Linked DNA regions of Homo sapiens: region 1 is linked to region 2. A link means that fine-mapping ties the variant in region 2 to the expression of a gene that starts in the linked region. Tissue or cell type: whole blood. Region 2 holds a variant in brackets; the other region holds the start of a gene. All regions are shown on one strand. Distances are from middle to middle.

Region 1 (2,613 bases), 21 kb before region 2:
TTTCACCTACGTTCTGGATACATGTGCCTCATACTGGGTACATAATTCTTGAAATACATTTTCACTGAATATATAATTCTAAGATGATGGTTATTTTCTCTCTGGCTTTGTTGCTCTTGATGAAAAGTCAGGTGTGAATCTATTATTCTCTTTTTCTATGTGCCAGAAAGAGGTGTTGGATTTTATTGTGAGGGAAATAGGGAGGAAAATTTTTAAGCACAGGGTGACCCCGTCAGATCTGCATTTTAGAAGCACACTCTGGCACTGTGTGGCTGAGATCGGAGGGAGGGCAGCTCCGCGAGGTCTCTGCTGTGGTCCAGAGAAAAGACGGGGCGAACCTGGGAGGTGGGTGCGGTGAGGGCAGGCAGACCCGAGTCCCCGAGGGGATGCCGGAGCGACAGAAGTTGGGGTCAGTACAGGAAGGAGCAGGGACGACGCCGGGCTCCCAGTGAGGAATGGAGGCGCGTTAGCGAAAAAGGAAGGGGGGTGGGGAATCAAGAGTTCGTCTCGTGCCACAAATGGTTGAGCCCCCACTAAGCACCTAGCGCCCAGTACACGCGGGTTTGGGGAAGGCTGGGGCAGCGCGGCGGCAAAATCCGTCCCCGGGGGACCTCAGCTCCACCGCGGCCGCTCCTGCCGCGAACGAGGGCCCGGCCCGGGAGCCCTCGAGGCAGCGCCCGCGTCTGACCCGTGCGTCTGGGCACCGACCACCGAGGGTCGGGTGGATGGACAAATGGAAGGGCGGATGGAGGGGTGGGTGGACGGACGTGGAGACACTGGCCAAACTGCGCCGCGGAGAAGGCCGGATTAGGGAGACCTCGGCCCTGCGACGTCCGGACACGGTGGGAAGCCTTTTGGGTCCCGGCTCTCCTGCAACTCGAGGGGCTGCGCCTCGGGCCCAGTCTCCTCCGCTGCGGGAGGTGAGCAAATGGCCTCCCCGCTCTGAGCCTTGACTTTGTCGTCGGCTCCACTGGGCCCTGCCACTTCGGCCCCTGGCAGTCACCGGGAGGCTATGAGGCGCCCGCCTGGGTATTAAGGATCACGTCCCGCCCCGGCGTCACAGCAAGACGGGGCGCGCGAGCCTCCGCCCCGCCCCAGCCGGTGACCGAGCCAAATAAGTCCCACGGCAGCGCTCGCGGCTCGCGGCCCGCGGCCCAATCGCAACCCGCGGGGGCGGGCCCCGGGGGCGGGGTTCCGATGGGGGCGGGGCTCGGGGGCGGAGCTGACCCTCAGGGCGCGAGCCGAGCCCGCGGCCGTTCCGCGCGCTCCCGCCCCGCCCCCTCCTTGCGCGCGCTCGCTCGCTGGCGCCGAGGAAAACGTTGCGCAGGTTCAAAAATGGAACGTCGGCGGCGTGAGGGAGCGCGAGGGGGTGTGCGCGCGTGCGCGTGCGCGTGCGCGCCCGGACGAGGGTGACGGGGACCCCGCCAGCCCCAGCATCGCGCGCCGCAGCCGCGGCCCCGCAGCTCCGCCCCCGGCCCGGCCCGGCCCCGGGCCCGCTCGCCCGCCGCCCCGCATGGAGCTGTCAGCCATCGGCGAGCAGGTGTTCGCCGTGGAGAGCATCCGGAAGAAGCGCGTGCGGAAGGTGAGGCTGCCCGGGGGCGGCTCCCAGGACCCCAGTGGGGTCCCTCCCGTCCCCAGCACCGCTCCCTCCACGCTGGGGCTGAAGGGGAAAGCGGGGCGCGGGGGCCCCGGCAGCCCTGCGCTGCTGGGCCCGTCTCCCCAGCCCGTGCCTCAGTTTCCCTGCCACCGTGTAGGGCGAGTAGAACAAAAGTTGTCGCTCCAGGATGCTAGTGGCGGCCGAGCCTGCCTGAGCTGGAGATTAGGATCGGACGTAGGGATCCTCAGCGCCATCCCACCTCGCTCCCCTTTTATTGTAAATATGGGGAGACTGAGGCCCAAGTTGAAAGGACTTGCCTAGCGCGTTATGGTCAGAGCTGGGTTTTGAACTCGGGACTCTGGACGCTTGGCACCAAATCCTTTCAAGTTGTAAGTGGAGCTTTGGAAAAGTCTCCTCCGGCCTCTGAAGTTTTTCCTGCTGGACTTTGGCCTTTTCCGATCCTGCCCCCTCTACGCCACCCGAGCACATCCCTATTCCCCGCCCCCACCCCCACCTCAACTCCTAGCCCAGGCCAGGGCTCTGAAGCCCGCCCCCTGCGCTGGGGCATCCCCTAGTCTCCTACCCCATCTGCCTTCTTCAAAACATACACCCTGCAATTTAAGGAGGTGTCTGTTCTGCTGGTTTCAGAACCCCACACTTTGGGGCTAGACTTTGTCCGGGCCTGGCGTCTACACCTCCCGTGCACTTGTTTGGCGAGGGGGCTCGCCTAAGGCTGGGGAAATCCTTGGGGAGAAGTTCCTTTCCTGGTACGCACTACTGTCCTTCCTTTGTCTCCTCCTCCCTGCAGCCCTTTGGGAGGCTCCAGGCCGACTGGGAGGGGCCTTAGGGGGTCACCTCCTCCCATTTAACAGAGACAAAAACTGAGGCCCAGGCAGAGGAAGTGACCTGCTCAAGGTCACCGAGCAAGTTAGATAGGGAGGTAGAGCAGGAGCTCAACTGGGCTGATTGGCAGCCCATCTTCTTTCTCCATAGAGAAAACTCAGTCCTGGCATCTC
Region 2 (2,754 bases):
TCCCCTCATCACCTGGCCTGTGCAGAAACGCTCATGCACACCTGGCTGCACAGGTGTGCACGCATTACCCTTCGCGTGTACGTTCCCATGTGCCCCGTGAAAGCATGTGTGGCTGCAGACGTGTCCACATGGGCCTTGCGAACCTGGGTTAGAAACCCTGGCCAGGCGAACGTGGGGTGATTCACAGCACAAAAGACCTCACCACCACACCTGCACTCACCCCACCTTGCATGCACCTTGCTACCTGCTTGCGGCTTTCAGTGGAGGGCAGGGGTCTGGCACAGGTGCGATGGCACCCCATGCTCCAGGCATACAGATGTGGTTTCTCGGCTGCACCGGGCCAGGCTGCGGGTGTGCAGGCGTCTGCTAAGTTGTGTGATGTATCAGCACAGGCTTTGAGACGTCTGGACCCTGTCCTTCCTCCCGTGAGGGGTTCTTGTTCTTTCTGACTCAGGTGACTTTTCAGCCCTTCCAATTCCCCTCTTTTTCTGCCCTCCCCTCCAACTCAGCCAACCCAGGTGTGGGCAGTCAGGGAGGGAGGGAGTGTCCCACCACGTTCTCAGGGCAGCCCTTGACTCCTAAGCCCCTTCCTCCTTCCATTCTGCATCCCCTCCCCATCCAACCTAAATGCCACAGCTGGGGCTGAGCTGTATTCCTGTGGAGGGACCTCTGCCGTGCCTCTCTGAGGTCAGGCTGTGCTGTGTGATGGGCAGGCTTTGCCCCAGCCCACCCCTGGCAAGGTGCACTTGTTTTCTGGTTTGTACAAGGTGTCCTGGGGGCCCGTGGCTTCCCTGCCAGTGAGGAGTGACTTCTCCCTCTCTTCCAGTCCTGTAGGGGAGACAAAACCAGATTGGGGGGCCCAAGGGGAGCATGGAAAAGGCCGGCTCCCCTGTCTTTCCTTGGCTGTCAGAGTCAGGGTAACACACACCAAGAGTGGAGTGCGGCCAGCAAGTTTGAGACCTGCCCGCCCTCCTCGCAGCTCTGCTCTGTGTCCTCAGGAAGTCACAGAGTCTACTGAGGCAAGGAGAGGGTGATTCTTTCCCCAAATCCCTTCTTCCCTGGTTCCCAAACCAAAGACAGCCTGCAGCCCTTTCTGCATGGGGTGCTCTGTTGACAGGCTTCCCAGATCCCTGAGTCTCTCTTTCCTTCCTCCTCGATCTTTAGTTGTCCACGGTCAATTCAGTGCTTCCATTGGGGGACAGTCCCCTCCGGGATGACCTGATTCACCTCCAGCCCAGGGAATGGAATCTAGAGGAATACGTGGGGTGGGTCTGGACAAGGAGCGGCAGGAATCACCACCCATCTCCAGCTGTGGAGCCCTGTGGAGGGGAAGGGGAAGCTTGGGGTTCAGAGGGGACTCTTCCAGGAGAGGGGTGCCCAGCGGAGGTAAAGATGATAGAGGGTTG[T/G]GGGGGGTCTCTAGTTGAATGTTTTGGCCCATGACTTTGGAACATGGCTGGCAGCTTCCAGCAGAAGTCACGCTCCCCATCCCCCAGGGGACATAGGACCTTTTTCCTGCTTCCTGGTCACTTTCAAAGAACTATTTGCGCAATCTGTGGGTCTGTGGATTCACGGGGCTTTCTGTGTGGGTGCTGCAGTTGCTTTTGTCTGCAGCAGCAGGACACATCTTTCCTCTTACTCAGCCCTTTATGGCCCATGGGGAACTCCGTGGCTCAGGGAGAGCTGAACTCCAGGGGTGTGACCTGGGACGGGTGGGCCTGAGGTGCCCAGCTCAGGGCAGCCAGGTGGCTCATGGGCTGTAGTGAGCCAGCTCCCTGGGGGAAAAGGCTGTGGGCCGTTAGGACCATCCTCCAGGACAGGTGACCTCTATGAGGTCACCTACGGCTGTGGCCGTGCAGGCCTCCTTCCAGCCCAGAGTGGCCCAGTAGAGCAAGGCAGACAGTGACCTCCACCCCCGCAGCCCTCTTAAAAGGCCAGTACTCTTGGGGGTGGGGGGAGGGTTTAGAAAGCATTTGCCCATCTGCCTTTCTTTCCCCCAGCCCCCACCCGCTTTGAATGTAGAGACCCGTGGGCACTTTTCCTTTTGTGGTGGGGGGTGCGGAGGAGGTACCCCCACCCCTGGCACAGCCGCCTGGAATGCAGGACTGTCACTGCTGTTCGGGTGATGACCTCGTTGCCAAGCTCCTCCTGTCCCCTTGTTCTGGGGGCAGGCGCTGTGCTTCTGTGAGGTGGTTTAGCTTTTGCTTTCGAAGTGGCCAGCTGCGGCCACCAGGTCTCAGCACAAGAGCGCTTCCTTTGCACAGAATGAGCTTCGAGCTTTGTTCAGACTAAATGAATGTATCTGGGAGGGGTCGGGGGCACGAGTTGATTCCAAGCACATGCCTTTGCTGAGTGTGTGTGTGCTGGGAGAGTCAGAGTGGATGTAGAGCGCGGTTTTATTTTTGTACTGACATTGGTAAGAGACTGTATAGCATCTATTTATTTAGATGATTTATCTGGTAAATGAGGCAAAAAAATTATTAAAAATACATTAAAGATGATTTAAAAAAAAGAAAATTCCTGGGCATTTGATTATTCCTTCTGGTGGTTGTCAAGTGCATCCGTCCACCAACAGACTTTGTGCGAGCAACAAGGCTGTTTATTTCACTTGGGTGCAAGTGGGCTGAGTCCAAAAAGAGTCAGCCAAGGGAGATAGGGGTGGGGCAGTTTTATAGGACTGGGGTAAGCAGTGGAAAGTTACAGTGAAAGGTGGTTAGCTATTGTCAGCAGGGGAGGGGGTCACAAGGTGCCTGTTGG

What was found. PIP is the estimated chance that this variant, and not a neighbour inherited with it, causes the effect.
Region 1: CBX7 starts here. The variant in region 2 is fine-mapped to the expression of CBX7 in whole blood (INTERVAL, PIP above 0.99).

Annotation. Positions count from the first base shown.
Region 1 is chr22:39,151,345-39,153,957 of GRCh38, reverse strand. CBX7 (chromobox 7) reads left to right here and starts at 1,278. Exons shown (of 6, transcript NM_175709.5): 1 at 1,278-1,582. The coding sequence starts at 1,514. RefSeq lists silencers at 972-1,541, 1,612-1,661 and an enhancer at 1,119-1,700.
Region 2 is chr22:39,130,532-39,133,285 of GRCh38, reverse strand. It overlaps CBX7 (chromobox 7), which reads left to right. Exons shown (of 6, transcript NM_175709.5): 6 at 1-2,514. Among named protein-coding and RNA genes, the nearest start is that of CBX7, 21 kb to the left of the region's middle. RefSeq lists an enhancer at 1,299-1,860. The variant T/G (reference allele first, on the strand shown) is at 1,407.